2 linked regions of the Homo sapiens genome follow. The protein of the gene in region 2 purifies or fractionates together with the protein of the main gene of each other region. This does not show direct contact. Each region holds a gene or a part of one and is shown on either strand. Other genes may lie near its edges. The genes, in order: RNF121 and PIGU.

Region 1 (3,821 bases), on a different chromosome or scaffold from region 2:
TTCCTCAAAAACACCCACACTTTCTCCCGTGACAGGACTCTTATGAATGCTCTTTCCTCTGCCTGGTTCTCACTTCATCCACTTAACTGCTATTCATTGTTCAAGTCAGCTCCATAGTCACTTCTTCAAGGAAGCCATCTTTGAGCCCCAAGACTAGGTCAAATGACACTACTACATGTGTTTACAGCATCATGAACCTTTCCTACATAATGCTTATTAAAGTTGTAATTTTATTTTTATCTGTGTTTGTTACTGTAATAGCCATCTCTCCCACCTAAGAGTAAAGTTTATCTGGGCAAAAACCATGTTTATTTTTGTACACTTTTGTAATTCTGGCATATAGCTATGTGTCTAGACACATAGCAGGCATTAAAAAGTATCTACTGAATGAATGTTAACTTCCTGCTGGATAAAGTGGCTCTTTCCTATAATGGCCCTAAAGAGAAAAATTATAGGGTACATCTGAGATCTGGCTAATTTTTTTTTTAATAATTTCAACTTTTATTTTAGATTCAGAGGGTACATGTGCAGGTTTGTTACATGGGCATACTGCGTGATACTGAGGTCTGGGGTGCGAATGATCCTGTTGCCCATGTAATGAGCACAGTTACCTAACAGATAGTTTTTCAACCGTTGTCCCCACTCCCTCCTCCTCTTGTAGTCCCCAGTGCCTACTGTTGCCATCTTTATGTCCATGAATATCCAATGTTTAGTTCCCACTTATAAGTAAGAACATGCAGTATTTGGTTTTCTGTTCCTGCATTAACTGGCTTATGATAAAGGCCTCCAGCTGGCATGTTGCTGCAACGCACATGGTTTTATCTTTTTTTATGGCTGTGTTGCTTTCCAAACTTTAAGGAAGGAATGTCCATGCATATGCACATCTTGAAGGATTTTATGTGGCTTATCTCACCCTAGTGCCTTTCTCTTCCATTAAACAAGTGACATCAACTTGAGCAATTTGGAGGTGTCAAGAAGCAGTATTTAAGAACCCGGATGAACTTACCCCTATGGTAGATGCCATGTAGTCTGCACACATTTCTGCAAAGTCCCGTTCCAGAACTCCATAGTAGAGGCCATAGAAGAGAAGGGAGATGCCAAAGTCCATGGCATCTTCTGGTTTGATCCTGCAAGGGAAGCATTAGAGCTAGAAAGACCCACCCTGAGACATATCTTCTATGGATTACTACTCTGGGACACACAAGGCAGGGCCCAAAGCGAGAAGGCCCAAAGGCTAGAGCAAGTGCGGGCAAACTATGACCAAATCCAGTCTGCTGTCTATTTTTATATGGCCCATGAACACCTCTTGAGGAGGCTAGCTAGCACTGTAGGCTGTGAAGACCAAGCTACAGTATCCCCTCCTACCCCTTTTCCTCACTCTGCTCTTAGTCCTTGCCTCCCCTAACTGGTGACAATGACTTGCAGCTACCCAGGACCTATGCTCATCGGGACCTACATAGTGGGGACTCCACTGTTGGTAACTTCTGGACACTAAGTGAGCTGCCTTGCTGAGCTGTCTCTCTTCCAGCTAGCCACTCAAGTTGAAACAGCTGAGCCATCCATAAGGAGGAAAGGGCATGCCAGAATCTGGGTGTCACTGGTGCAGAGACTGAAAATTACTCCGGTGGCCACATGCCCCTCTTTCTGAGATTGTCTCAGCTTATGACAACAGAGCACAAAGCATGCCCACTACCTGAGACCTGGCCCCTTCCCCAGGCAAAGAGGGTGGGACAGGGTAGGAGTTTTTTCTCTTGTTATATAAGTACCTACATGATATCCTAGATTTGGCCTATTGTCCCATAAGACCTAAAATATTTACTATTTGGACCTTTACAGAAACAGCTTGTCAAACACAGGTTTAAGAAAAAAAGATAAAATTAGTAAATATTTATTAATATATAGCAGTTACTATAAAATTATAAACTACAAATATAAATAATCTGTATCATATCATCAAAGTTAAATTTTGGTCCAAGTCTATTTAACAAGAAGGATAAAGATCTTGCCTATAACATCAGAAGGTTTGTTTTAATAATTCCAAGGACCGATAATTTGCAACCTTGAGTCTATAAATCTTTGTTATAGAAAATTATCTGTTAAAATATTTGTACAAAGAACCGTATGTATGTGCTTAGTTATAAATTATATTTATATACAAAGCTGCATTTGCTTATGAACCCTGAATATTTAACTCACTAGAAATCATTGATCTTACACCACTTAATTTGATCAGTAGCACAAAAATGATCAAGATTCTCAATTCTGTTTTCCTCATTGTAGAGTTCAGGCAAGTAAAAAGAAACTGTAATTATAGAAGAATTATCTTTAAAACTTAATGCAGAGGCCAGGCGTGGTGGCTCACACCTGTAATCCTAACACTTATGGGAGGCCAAGGCAGGTGGATCACCTGAGGTCAGGAGTTCGAAACCAGCCTCGCCAGCATGGTGAAACCCCATCCTTACTAAAAATATAAAAATTAGCCGGGTGTGGTGGCTCATGCCTGTAGTCCCAGCTATTCAGGAGGCTGAGGCAGGAGAATCATTTGACCCCACTACTCGGGAGGTGGAGGTTGCAGTGAGCCACTGCACTCTAGCCTAGGCGACAAAGCAAGACTCCATCTCAAAACAAACAAACAAACAAACAAACAAACAAAAAACCATAATGCAGAATCCCATAATGCAGAATCTTGATTTTTATTTTATTTTTTAACCATACAGGTTAGAAAGTTACCAGGAGATATCTGTTTTCTTTGACAAGATGTGTTTGACTCTACAGTGATGAATTCCTCTAAACCCTTCAGGAGCCTGTTTATTCCTTCAGCCTGTACTACCCCTAGAAGAAAGAATTTCATGAGTGCACTCTCACTATATAAAATAGGATTTATTTATTTTTATTTTTTTCGAGATGGGGGTCTCCCTTTGTCACCTGAGCTGGAGTGCAGTGGCACAATCATAGCTCACTGCAGCCTTGAACTTCTGGGCTCAAGCAATTCTCCCACCTCAGCCTCCTGAGTAGCTGGGGATACAGGTGCACACTGCTACACCCAGCTAATTTTCTTTCTTTCTTTCTTTTTTTTTTTTTTTAAGAGTTGAGAGTCTCACTATGTTGCCCAGCTTGGTCTTGAACTCCTGGCCTCAAGCAGTCCTCCTGCCTCAGCCTTCCAAATAGCTGGGATTACAAGTGAGAGCCACCACACCTGGCCAGGATTTATTTTTACTTGTCCTAAAATAAACTCCTTTCAGAGACTCCTGCCTACAATATAACTAGGCTCAGGGAAGAGGCCAGTGATCATCCCATTCATTATCTTAAATTTGAATCCTAGATCTCTAGCTTCAGTGCACTGTCGTAGGCTTAGGGCTCCTCTTGATCCACAGCCCACAGCCACCAGTATTTCATCCAGGAAAGCATTATTTCCACCCTCATCTGCCTCATTGACTCACTGCATGCTCCAGTCTCTGAGCTCAGGATTTCTTGGCATCTGACTCAATTCGGGGTGGGAGGACCTGTAAGCTAATAAAGATCTTTTGGAAGGCTTATGACAACTGAAGCAACAGCCAAAATTCCATCCCTAGGAATGCACCCTTAGGAAGCAACAGAGCAGCGTTATCTGGGATAATACTAAATTGAAAACAACCTAAGTGCCCAACAATGAAGCAGGACTTAACATCCACAGGTTAACTTTCCAGAACTGTTTCCTTAGAAATCTTGTCGAATGTCAGCTATATTACAGGCAACACTGCTTATGACCTGTGATTAGTACAACACATCTGGACTGCGACATTCTTGAAACTGGATGTGTTCCTGGGGGAATGGGGCTCCTA
Region 2 (3,821 bases):
GATCCACCCGCCTCGGCCTCCCAAAGTGCTGGGATTACAGGCGTGAGCCACCGCGCCCAGCCAGCACCTGACTAATTCTTATTTTTTGTAGAGATGGGGTCCTGCTATGTTGCTCAGGCTGGTCTCAAACTCCCGGCCTCAAGCGATCTACCCACCCTGGCCTCCCAAAGTGCTAAGATTACAGGCATGAGCCACTATGCCTGGCCAATAATTCTTAGTTACCTTGGTATACTTTTCCTATGGGTGATAATAAAAGCATATCATCCTGTATAAGACAAATATTATTTTTCAGTTTCCCGTATCAATAAGGACAAAAGCTTGTTCAAAAGCAGTAGTGTCCCTATACTTCTAGCTGAGGGCCTAAGAAGCAGCATCACTCCAGCTGCAATGAACACACCTAGCATTCAGAACTTTGTTTCTAAATAACATTCTCTAATAAAAGGAGCCAGGGCCCTTGAAGAAGTGGTCAATTCCAGGGCTGAACTAAGCAAGATAAACCTGGATCATCTTATAGTTCTAGAATGTAATAAAGTGCTTTTAAAAAAAAAAAGTGAGATAGAGGTATGGCAAAAGGACAAAGGGGTCAAGATGAAAGCGGTCCCAATGGCCAAAACTAGAATAATCCAAACAACAGAATGAATATAGTATACAGAGTCCAGAGTATAAAATATCCAAATCTATACTGACATAAATAGTTAAATAAATGCAAAGAAATGACAACTCTTCCTTACAGAAGAATTTTAATTATTAAATAAAAATGAATGAGAGAAACAGAAAAGTCACCATTGAAACACCTGAGTAATGACTGTTACAGGCAAGATTAACCTATGAATGCAAAAATTAGTAGGCAAAAATTTAAAAACAGGATATTTGCAGAGCTCCAAAGAATAGCCCCTAAAATGCTGATTAATTACAAAGGGAAACAGTCACTTTATGGTGGAGAAATCTGGCAGACACTACATTAACCAAGGGATTATGGCTGACATCACCAGTATTAGGGCATTTCAATATGCACCCCTGATCCAATGCACTGAGAGGACCATATCATCTCAGGGGTATTCTTCCCCAAAATCCATTACCTCCGTCAAACCACAAGAAAACATTAGACAAAACCAAATTGAGGGACATTCTACAAAATACCTGACCAGAGCTCTTCAAAGTGTCAAGGTCATAAAAGATGAGGAAATGCTAAGGAACTATCACAGATAAACGACTAAGGAGATATAACAACTAAACGCAATATGTGGCCAGGCGCGGTGGCTCATGCCTGTAATCACAGCATTTTGGGAGGTCGAGGCAGGTGGATCACCTGAGGTCAGGAATTCGATACCAGCCTGGCCAGCATGGTGAAACCCCGTATCCACTAAAAATACAAAGATTAGCTGGCATGGTGGCAGGGACCTATAATCCCAGCTACTCGGGAGGCTAAGGCAGGAGAATCTCCTGAATCTGGGAGGTGGAGGTTGCAGTGAGCCGAGATCTCGCCACTGCACTCCAGCCTGGGTGACAGAGCGAGACTCCGTCTCAAAAAAAAAAAAAAAAAAAAAAGGGGGGGGCGGGCGTGCTGGCTCACACCCGTAATCCCAGCACTTTGGAGGCTGAAGTGGGCAAATCATGAGGTCAGGAGATCGAAACCATCCTGGCTAACATGGTGAAATCCCATCTCTACTAAAAATATAAGAAATTAGCCAGGCGAGGTGGCGGGCACCTGTAGTCCCAGCTACTCGGGAGGCTGAGGCAGGAGAATGGCATGAAACCGGAAGGCGGAGCTTGCAGTGAACCAAGATCGTGTCACTGCACTCCAGCCTGGGTGACAGAGCGAGACTCTGACTCAAAAAAATAAATAAATAAATAAATAAAATAAAAATAAAAATGCAATATGGAATATTAGATCATAGAACAGAAAAAAAATTAGTGAAAAAATGGTAAAACTTTTTTTTTTTTTTTTTTTTTTTTTTTTTTTTTACACAGGGTCTTGCTCTGGTGCCAGGCTACATACAGTGCAGTGGCATGATCATAGCTCAATGCAGCTTCCTCATCCCAGGCTCAAGCAATCCTCCCACTTCAGCTTCCCAAGTAGCTGGGACCACAGGTGTGCGCCACCAAACCAGCTAACTCTTTTTTAATTTTATGTAGAGAGGGAGTCTCCCTATGTTGCCCAGACTGGTCATAAATTCCAGAGCTCAAGGCATCCCCTCGCCTCAGCCTCCCAAAGTGCTGAGATTATAGGCATAGCCACTGTGCCCAGCAAAAATGGTAAAATCTTAACAACTATGGTTTAGTTAATAGTATTGTACCAATGCTATCATCTTAGTTTTGATCACTGTACTATGACTATGTAGGATATTAACATTGGGGGAAGCTGGGTGAAGGGTATACAGATCTCTCTGCAATATTTTTGCAAGTATTCTGTAAGTTTAAAATGATTTCAAGTAAAAAGCTAAAAAACAGGCTGGTGCAGTGACTCATGCCTGTAATCCCAGCACTTTGGGAGGCAGAGGCAGGTAGATCACTTGAGGTCAGGAATTCAAGACCAGCCTGACCAACATGGTGAAACCCTATCTCTACCAAAAATACAAAAATTAGCTGGGTGTGGTGGCACACACCTGTAATCCCAGCTACTCAGGAGGCTGAGGCAAGAGAATTGCTTGAACCCAGGAGGTGGAGGTTGCAGTAGGCCAAGATCACACCACTGCACTCCAGCCTGGGCAACAGAGTGAGACTCTGGCTGAAAAAAAAAAAAAAAAGTAAAAAACAAAAAACAGTGGTATCTAGTCTCTGGATCCAGCTGCCTATTTGCAGGAAATAGAGATGATAGAGGAACATGTTAAATTGTATCATGATATATAATCAGGAAAATTCAAACTATGGGAGATCTGTCTGGATTCTTCAATAGATAAACACTATGGAAGAGAAAGGGAACCTGGGACCCTAAAAATTAAGAGAGATTGAAAACACAAACAAAAACTTTTTTCTTAGGGGCAAGACTAAGCCTAACGGCAAATGAACTAGGGATGTTCATTTGAGTAATAAAACTTTTAAAAATACAAAGATGTCATTACATATAAAAGTCAGGATAATAGTTACTTATGAAAAGAGTGAGGGGATTGTGACGAAGGGGGGCTTCTGAAGTGAGTGGCAAAGTTCTGATTCTTGACTTGGATGACAGTTACAAAAATGTTCACCTTACAATAATTCACCATAGAATACATTGTTATGTGTGTCTTACAAATTCTGTTTAATTTTGTAATAACGGCTTTTTTTTTTTTTTTGAGACAAAGTCTTGCTCTATTGCCCAGGCTGGAGTGCAGTGGCATGATCTCAGCTCACTGCAACCTCCACCTCCTGAGTTCAAGTGATTCTCCTGCCTCAGCCTCCTGAGTAGCTGGGACTACAGGCTCCTGCCACCACACCCAGCTAATTTTTGTATTTTTAGTAGAGACAAGGTTTCACCATGTTGCCTAGGCCGGTCTCGAACTCAAGCTCAAGCAATCTACCCACCTCCCACCTTAGCCTCCCAAAGTGCTGGGATTACAGGTGTGAGCCACCTCGCCTGGCCATAAAGGCTTTTTTAAGTAGTGGTATCAGAAGTGCTCTTCCTGACCCTGATTCTTTTATTTTTGAGACAAGGTCTTGTTCTGTCGCCCAGGCTGGAGTGCAGTGGTGCAATCTTGGCTCACTGCAGCCTCCACCTCCTGGGCTCAAGCCACCCTCCCACCTCAGTCTCCCAGGTAGCTGGGACTACAGGCACACGCCACCATACCCACCTAATTTTTGTATTTCTTTTTTGTAGAGGTGGGGTTTCACCATGTTATCCAGGC

What was found.
Region 1: the proteins of PIGU (region 2) and RNF121 purify together in Homo sapiens (affinity purification with western blotting, with the first as the bait; one study listed by BioGRID). This does not show direct contact.

The regions. Positions count from the first base shown.
Region 1 is NC_000011.10:71,987,903-71,991,723, reverse strand, and holds part of RNF121 (E3 ubiquitin ligase RNF121), read right to left. Parts: intron 1,128-3,821; coding exon 1,007-1,127; intron 1-1,006. UniProt on the Homo sapiens protein: E3 ubiquitin ligase which accepts ubiquitin and transfers it to substrates thereby promoting their degradation by the endoplasmic reticulum-associated degradation (ERAD) pathway which is a pathway involved in ubiquitin-dependent degradation of misfolded endoplasmic reticulum proteins.
Region 2 is NC_000020.11:34,666,936-34,670,756, forward strand, and holds part of PIGU (GPI-anchor transamidase component PIGU), read right to left. Parts: intron 1-3,821. UniProt on the Homo sapiens protein: Component of the glycosylphosphatidylinositol-anchor (GPI-anchor) transamidase (GPI-T) complex that catalyzes the formation of the linkage between a proprotein and a GPI-anchor and participates in GPI anchored protein biosynthesis.